Linked DNA regions of Homo sapiens: region 1 is linked to region 2. Evidence: fine-mapped expression QTL. A gene starts in region 2. The other region holds a variant in brackets. All regions are shown on one strand. Distances are from middle to middle.

Region 1 (4,396 bases), 62 kb before region 2:
CAAGCCCGGCTAATTTTTGTATTTTTTTGTAGAGATGGGGTTTCACCATGTTGGCCAGGCTGGTCTCGAACTCCTGGCCTCAGGTGATCCGCCCACCTCAGCCTCCCAAAGTGCTTGGATTACAGGCATGAGCCACTGTGCTCAGCTGGCATTTGTTATATAACAGACCATTCCTTGAAAATGCCAACAAAACAAAACTTTTCACCACCCTAACCAGAAAAATGAACTTTTTTTTCTAAATTGCCCTATTTCTGTCAGTGATTCCAATCTCCTACCAAAGAAACATTTACTCTGAAATAATTAAGTCCTTAAAACTCTGTGTTGAATTGATTACTCTTCCCCGCTTTCAGTCTTCTAAGGCCTGTCTGTTCCTATCACATGTTTCTCCAATCCACCCTTACTACTCTACTGTGATGTCAACACAAATTTCTGAATTATTAAAGAAACTTCCAAGGAAGTCTCTTTTACTCCAATCTCTTTACCCTCCCCAGTCAAAGCTGCAGTAAAACCTGTACTTTAAGAAGAAGGCTTTCAGGTCATTTCTCCCTTGTGAGATTATACAAAGTTTGGATGCAAAATAAAAATCTAAACCAAGAAGGTTGTGATAAGTTCCTCCTTTATGCAGCCTCATCACATCTCCTCCTTGACAGTATTAATATGCTGTGCTTATCTTCTCCTCCAACACCAGGCCCATCCCTACATTTTTCCCTCATGGAATTTATTCTCCTCACCTGCTCTATTCTTCTTTCTCTTCTCTGTGTCCAATTAAGCCAATGTTCAAGGGTCATTTCAGAGTGTACTTCAAGACCAAGTGCCCTGGTAGTTCTAGTCCTTTCTCTGCACTCCGTATCGGTAAGAATCACAGAATGAACTATGGTCTTCTAATTGTTTTTATACACACTTCCCTGTACTCCAACTAGATACAAACACCGTGCCTTACACTACCAGCCACGTGGCTGGACCAGGCAAGGTAAAGTTGGTGGCCAAGGGAGAAGGTCTACAAACGCACCCCAAACAAGGATCCCACCCATGGCTTTGCTGCATCAGCAAAAACTCTGATGAACTAAAGTCCTCCTCCAAAAAGACCTAGAGGAAATATCCAAATGAACAGATCACTTAACAATATGTAGATTATTTAACAGTAAAACAGGCGATTGCCAGAGTAAATATTTTCCATACGCTACACAAGCCTTAAAACATTGAAGTTAAAGCTGAAAACATTGACATTAAAGTTGGTTTCTATGGATGTCAACTACAACTCTGACAGCACCATTAATAATTCACATTTCTTAGTTTCTTTTGGAATCCAGTCAACTCCTTTCTCTAGTTTCAAGAACCCCTAACTCCAAGCACAACTGTCTGTGCTTCAGGTTTCAACTGCAAATAGCTAGTTTGTCAGTACATGTCACATTCATTTTTTAATTTTCTGTTTAGTTACTTACCAGGCTACACACAATATCTGTCTCAACATTAACATTATTCATAACCATTTTACCTCCCCCTCCTCTTGTGAACATGAGAATTATTTTAACACACCAAAGAGTTAAAACAGAGACCCAGTCAATTTTAGGTGTTTGGTAACACCCTGCCATTTTGTACAAGAAGTGGCTGTGAACCAGAGTCTATTTCAGTGGCCAAATTCCATAGTAGAAGTGAGCTTAAAAATACTCAAGGTCCTAATGTGCTTCCAGTCTAGAAGGACCACATTTGTAAGGCATTCCTTTGGATCTTGAGTGATCATAAGCCCCTGGAAAGCAGGTACTACTCTCTCTCTGCTTCTTGTTTGTTCAAAACAAACTTTTTGGGCACCTACCATGGTCTATGTGCTGTGCTGGACACTGGGAATGTAAAGAGGAACAAACTACAGTTCCTTCCCTCCAAGAACTTGGTCTACAAGAACCTAGCAATGTTGGGTGCACAGTAGATATTTAATACGTATTAAATGGGTATTTCCATAAAGAGTCCCCATAGGTTCTCTGGGCCCACGATGAGAACTCAACCATTCATTTCACAAATGATAAGTTTGCAGTTGGGCCAAAAACCTTTAATTTCAATGAAACCATAACCTGCAATGGCTTATGTCAGAGAACAACATAAATATTTGCTTTAAGAGCTGGTGCCAAGAATCTCATG[C/T]AAACTTTAGGCAAAATGTTTTAGCTGAGGGGTACTTGGCTAAAACCAGAGGGCTTGGAAGGAGGAAAATGTAATGCAGAGTCTGCTGAACTTTGACCCATGGCATCAGTGAAGTCCAACAACTTTTCAAGTCTTGGTCTTCTCATTTGTAAAATGGGGACAATGCAAGGCTATGATTTATTCCTCACAGGAAAAAAAGTCCTCTGGAAATGTAAAAGCCGCATTAGAGTAATGTTTAATAATTCAAGATGAGGTCTGGAAGAACATCAACAGTCTCTCACCCTCTGTGCCCAGGCATTTTGAAAGGGCACTGTGCCAAAGTCCATTAGTGCTGGGAATACACATCAGCAGGAAGCCTTTTGCATCTTGACTCCCTTTCCATTGAGCCCCTGAAATCAGATGCCTAACAGGAAGATAGGAAGCTGAAGTGTTATGGGACCCCAGCTATCAGTCAAACGGTTTTCCTAATGTCTCCTTTTTAGTTGTTTTGTTTTAAAGAAAGAATTAGCTTTCACAATCAAGGTTGCTGTGATTCTAAAAATCCCACAAAAATGCCCGCTTGGAATGCCTAGCTTTTCAAGGCTTCAGGTAACCTGAAAGTCCTCTGATTCAGATACTGGCAGAACCTGAACATGCTGACAGCTTGGATTAATTTGGGGGAAAGGATGCAAGGGGCAATAAAATATTCTAACTTCAGATTCAAAGAGGCAGCAATATGGTGAAGAAAAGCACAAAGTTCCAAAACCAGACTGACGTTCTCTCCCCCAACTGACTTGTACATTCAGTGAATTAACTCAGCTGTGTATTTCCCCAATATATCAGCCTGGTGAGAGATGCCATAAACAGACCTGCAGGCAACCCTACAGACATCCCTTATCCCTCCCCTCCTCCAGGGGTATAAAGGAAAGCTAACATTAAGTGAAAGACATAAGTCTAGAGCTGCAATGTCCATAGTGGTAGTCACCAGGAATGTGTGAATAGCCAGCATCCAATAGATAGCTAGTCCAAATTGAGACGTGCTATGTGGATAAAATATCCACCAGATCAAAAAGACTAGTATGGAGGAATGTAAAATATTTCAATATTTTATACTGAATACATGCTGAAATAATATTTTGGGTATATTAGGCTTAAAATATATAATTAAAAATAATTTCATCTGTTTTTTTATTTCTTCATGTAGCTACTAGAAAATTTTACAGTATAGGCAAGGCTCTCAATTGTAGCCCAAACTGTATTTTTCTTGGACAGTGCTGGCTCAGAGCATCCCAGTTTCACCTGGATCCTTTGAAAGGACAAATTGAACATATGGAAATGCAGTCAGGCTCACAAAACAAATAACCTCATTTTCCATGAGGTGACCTTGACACCATTGAAAGAATGAAGCCGATTACATGGCTGTCCTCTCACAGTTGATCTCCAAGTACAAGACTGTTTCTTGTCAGGCTAAATGCTCTCTTGCAATGATCTGTTTTAGATAATACCAAGAAAAGCTCTACAGGGTATGGGTCAAAGCACAGGTACTGGAGTCAGGCCGACCTGGGTTTGAATCCCATCTCTGCCACTTTCTAGCTGGGTAATCTCAGGAATATTATTTAATATATTAAGGTGCCTATTCTCTGTAACAGGACAATCAGATTTCTTCACAGAGAAGGGGAGGGAAGGGTTAACACAGCAAGGGAGATGAAGAATCTTGGGCACCATGCCTAACAGACAGCACTTGAGAATGGTAGCCATCTAGTAAAATTCTAGCAATCTTATCTGAGCACCTTCCAGAATAATGATGAGGTAGGGGAGACGGGGATGGGGTGCAAAGGAGATGGGACCACTTGTCCACAGACCTTGGAGTCAGTGAATTAAAGCCGAATCCTCAGGAACGGTATTTATTCCACACAGTGCAACACTGCCCTCTAGTGACAAAGAGGTGGAAAAGCTTTCAGAGCATGAGGCAAGCAAGGAAGAAAAATACATTTTTCCAGGCTCTAAGACAGTAAGTTCTCCAAATCAGAGAGATCATATCAAAGAATAATTTTTTCTCATGAGTCACCTTTAAAGCAGTGACATGGAGTATGAAGAGCAATATTATCAAGATTTACTACCAACCCAGAGGTTGTCACTTTGTTAATTATATAATATCTCAAATAGGAAAAACAGTAATTCTCTCTAGACATATTAAATGTGACACCTAAAAAGAAGAAAGTCTGAGTGTTCCAGGTTACTCGACATTATTCTGGTAGGACAGCACGGAGGTTTAAGATTCATG
Region 2 (4,396 bases):
TGAATGTTGGTGCTGGTTTGATCTTCTATCCAGACCACAAAAACTTTCTCCATAACAGCAATAAGGCTGTTTTGCTTCCTTATCATTTGTATTTTCACTGGAGTAGCACTTATAATTTCCTTCAAGAACATCTCATATGCATTCAAAACTTGGCTAAATGGCACAAAATGCCTAGCTTTTGGTCTGTCTCAGCTTTCAACATACCTTCCTCACTAAGCTTAATCACTCCTACCTTTAAAGTAAGAGACCTGTGATTGTCCCTTGCACTCAAACACTTAGAGACCACTGTAGGGTTATTAGTTGGGCTAATTTCAATATTGTGGTGTCTCAGGGAATAGAGAGGGTTGGGGAGAGGAAAAGAGATAGAAGAATGGCTGGTCGGTGGAGTAGTCAGAACACATACAACATTTATTAATTGAGTTCCCTGTCTTATATGGGCACAGTTCATGGCACCCCAAAACAATTACAGTAGTCACATCAAAGATCAGTGGTCACAGATCACCATAACAGATATAATAATAATGATGAAAAAGTTTGAAATATTGAGAGAATTGCCACAATGTGACATAGAGACACAAAGTGAGCACATGCTGTTGGAAAAATGGCACCAATAGACTTGCTGGACACAGGGTTGCCACAAACCTTCAATTTGTAAAATAAAATAAAATTGAATTAAATGCAGTATCTACAAAGTGCAATAAAGCAAAGAACAATAAAACAAGGTATGCCTGCACTTTTTTCTATGAACCCCTTAACATGTGACACAAGAGCTCACTAAAGAGTGATTTAATTCTTCAGAACTGACACACGGAACTTAGACCCTAGGCCTTAAAGAAAACAGCCCAGCTTCAGGAAAGTCCACTTTTACTTTTACAGCCAGAAGAGTTTTCTTTGGCCACTACTTTTACTTTGAAAGCTATAGTCACAAGAAGCCATCTCTTTTTCCGCCGGTTTTAAAATTGTCTTGTTCTAGGTTTCACTTCACTGACAGAGACATAGCCAAAGAGATCAGCTTGTGAATATGATCATTCTTGACTTTCAGTTCTGTATTTCGTGCCCCTTTGCTCAAACTATGTCTCTCAGTTCTTCTCACTTGCTTCATTAAAATATTTTATATCTATTACTCTATTTTTTTAAAAAAAAACACTTTTGATATGTTCCTCCTTCACAGAAAAGAATGTGGCTACCTCAAACACTTTATTAGGATTCACTCATTTTTTATTACAGGAGGTTAAATAAAATTGGTATTATGATGGCCTCTGTATGGAAAATGTGTCGTTTTTAGAGTTCCGGCCACAGAAACTGACCTATGAACGGTTTTCTAAAGGAGAAGGGTGTGCCTGTGGAAAGTTCACGGCAACGGGAGTTTGACTCCTCTTAAGGTATGAAGAGGAAGACAGGCTAAAGTCTCAAGAAACTTCTGACTCAATAGGGGAAAGCTATCAAATTTCCCAAAAGTTGTGCGATTTTGGTTAGCACATCACAAAGGTGATGAGCAGCTCCTGAGAGTGAAACCCACATCCCATTTCTGGGGAGAACTACGTAGTTGGTTCCCTCTACATAAAATATCAGAGTCTACATCCTGACACCCATAAGAAACCTCTCCCACCTTTCTCTTACTAACCTTTTCTTCCATTCTCAGTTTACAATGACACACAATTTTGTTTCCCACAAGTACCGTTCAACCAGAGACACACACACTTACACATACGTATATATTTCATATATATATATATATATATATATATATATATATATATGTTTGGAGAGCAGGAAACGGGGGAGCCAAGGTCTGTTTGTACTCACAACTTTGGCTCAACTGTGCTGGGGTGGCTGGAGGTTTGACCACGGAGGAGGGGCCCGCTGGCAGCGCCAACCGGCTGAACTGTGCGCCTTTTCATAAAGGCCGAGGAACTGGGGTTAGCCACACTACAACCCTCCCACCTGAGGGAAAGGCCTGTTTGTTCTGGAAGGCACAGCCTAGCCTTATTTAACTAACTGCAAGCAGTTAATATAAGCATTCCCAAGGCAGCAAGCAAGCTCTAGTCTACGAAAGTAAAGCCATCGACTTTAGGAAGATTTCTCCAGTCCAGCATCCTGAAAGATGAAGCCCAGACTCCTCACCTGACGGTTAACCTGAAAACACCTGATCCTCTCTCCGGAATCCTTGCCTGGGGAAAACGATAAGGCTGCCGGGCCATGCCTCCTCCTTCAAAACTTTCCAGGGCTCTCGGGATTCGGAACAGGAAACACCGTTCACGGCCGACTCATTTCGCCCTCGCCGTAACGCGTCCGCCGAAGTTGGAGCCCTGCAAAGCGGGGTTCCCTTCTCTTACCCTTTCTGCCGGCCGCGTGGTGCGCGCAGACCCCGGCCCGAGAGCAGGCGCCGCAGTCGTGGAGTGCGGCGGGCAGTTCTCGGGCGGCTGAAAGGCGGCTCTGTGTGCACCCTGCAGGATGCGGCGCGTGGCCAGGCGCTCCCGCCCCGCCCCCAAGGGGCTGCCCCGCCCCGCCCCGCCCCGCCGCCTCCTACCGGGGACCGGAGCTTCCCCAGTTGGGGTCCTAGGGGACTTATTCCACGCTTCAGCGGACCAGCCTCCCCGCGCTCCCGGAGAAGGGGGTCGGCGACGCGGAGGCGGGGTGGGGGCCGTAGGGGATGGAACCGAGGCGCGCGCGAGAAGAGCCGAGGAAGTAAGCAGTCCCAAAAGGGGGCGGCGGTGGGGCCCCCAGGGAGGCGTGGGGCACGCCAAGGGCGCCGTGGGGCACTGACCTGTGGTGCGGCCCCCAGGACAGGCCCGAGGCGCGGTTGCACACCGGCAGGTCCAGCACCTCCATGCCTCGAGGCATGGCGCGGCCAGGGAGCGGCAGGAGGACACCTAGCGTGGGACGGCTACACCTGTCTGGGCGCAGGCCCGCCGCCCTTGCACTCTCCACCCAAGTGCCCAACGCTGCGGTACGGCCCGCTTTGGCTCGGGGTGTCTGCCGGAGAAGCGCCTTACAGAGGGACCCGGGCGGTGGGCCCTGCGGCAAAGTGGCCCACGCACCCTCCACACCGCTCCCGGGCGGCCGCACCTGGCACTCCCGGCCCTCTGGGGTTCCTGCCTTTTTCGGGGGGGTGGTGGTGAGACCGGGTCTCACTCTGTCGCCTGACCTGCGATCACTGCTGACTGCAGTCTTGAACTCCTGGACCCAAGCGATTCTCCTGCCTCCGCCTCCCAAAGTGCTAGGATTACAGGTGTAAGCCGCTGCGCCTGGCCCCTTCTTTTCTTCACTCTCTCATGCATTCATTTCTTGTTTCCACATGCATTAATTTGTCCGTTGCTTTGGTCATTCCTGTTTTGATGCTTAGGGAAACACTCACTGAGAGCCAAGCCGACCGTTGGGTACTGTGGTCTCTGGGATGACAAAGACATGGTCCTTTCCCTTGAGGACTTCACATTAAACTGACAAGTTCATTCATTCTGGCTTTTCTCTAAAGTGCACGATCATGAAAGTCTGTGACAAGGGCCATATTTCTGAGATGTTAGAAAGTGCGACCGGCGCGCAAGGAATAGGAAAAGCGAGTTGCCCTGCGCCCGCGTCGGGATGAAAGGCAGGGAGCCGGGAGGGAGCGTCAGCGTGGCCCGGCGGGCGCGGAGGGAGGGCGCACGGCCCCAGGGCTGGACTCGTAACCCCAGCGCCCTGCTGCAGCCGCCGTTGCTTTTCCCTCTTGGTGCACGAAAGGAAGACGCCTGTGGGAAATCGAACAGACAATCGGTCGCCGTTCGTGAATCTTAGAGATGAGAGTCGTCAGTACATGACCAAAAGCCGTGTTCGGCTCCTAGTGATGTTAGCTTGGTAGTTTGGACGTGGCCGACAGCCTCCTAGAGCTCGTACCCCTCCTTTTCACGAGGTAGCAGCAGCAAAGTCCGCAGTGCCAGGCTCTGTGAGTCTGCAAGCGTTTAAAAGATCTCCGGGTTTAGCTCAGGCAAAGAATATTCTGCCAGGTAATTATTTTAATATGCGTGTCCAGGCAGAAGCAGTTGGACAGACGATGTATATAAAAGCACACATAATTGACCCTCTTTTAAGGCACTTCCAAGGGGTTATTAGGCAGAAATGCCTTGGTTTTGAGCCCCTTTCATCGGAGGTGCGCAATCATCCAGCTTTGTGAATAGTAACTGCACTCCAGCCTGGGCAACATAGTAAGACCCCAACCTTTTGGCACCAGGGACTGGTTCCATGGAAGATGATATTTTCCACGGACAGGTGGGGGGATGAGGGGAGGATGTTTTCGGGATGAAACTGTTGCACCTTAGATCAGTAGGCATTAGAGTCTTATAAGGAGCACACAACCTGCAACTTAGATCCATCGCATGCGCAGTTCACAGTAGGGCTTCTGCCCCTATGAGAATCGAGT

Evidence for each region.
Region 1: its variant is fine-mapped to the expression of MCOLN2 in blood mononuclear cells (TOPMed, PIP above 0.99).

What each region holds. Positions count from the first base shown.
Region 1 is chr1:84,932,366-84,936,761 of GRCh38, forward strand. The region is part of intron 11 of MCOLN2 (mucolipin TRP cation channel 2); the gene reads right to left. Among named protein-coding and RNA genes, the nearest start is that of LPAR3, 41 kb to the left of the region's middle. The variant C/T (reference allele first, on the strand shown) is at 2,134.
Region 2 is chr1:84,994,672-84,999,067 of GRCh38, forward strand. It overlaps MCOLN2 (mucolipin TRP cation channel 2), which reads right to left and starts at 2,442. Exons shown (of 14, transcript NM_153259.4): 1 at 2,125-2,442. The coding sequence starts at 2,201. RefSeq lists enhancers at 925-984, 3,305-4,176 and silencers at 1,785-1,834, 2,445-2,734.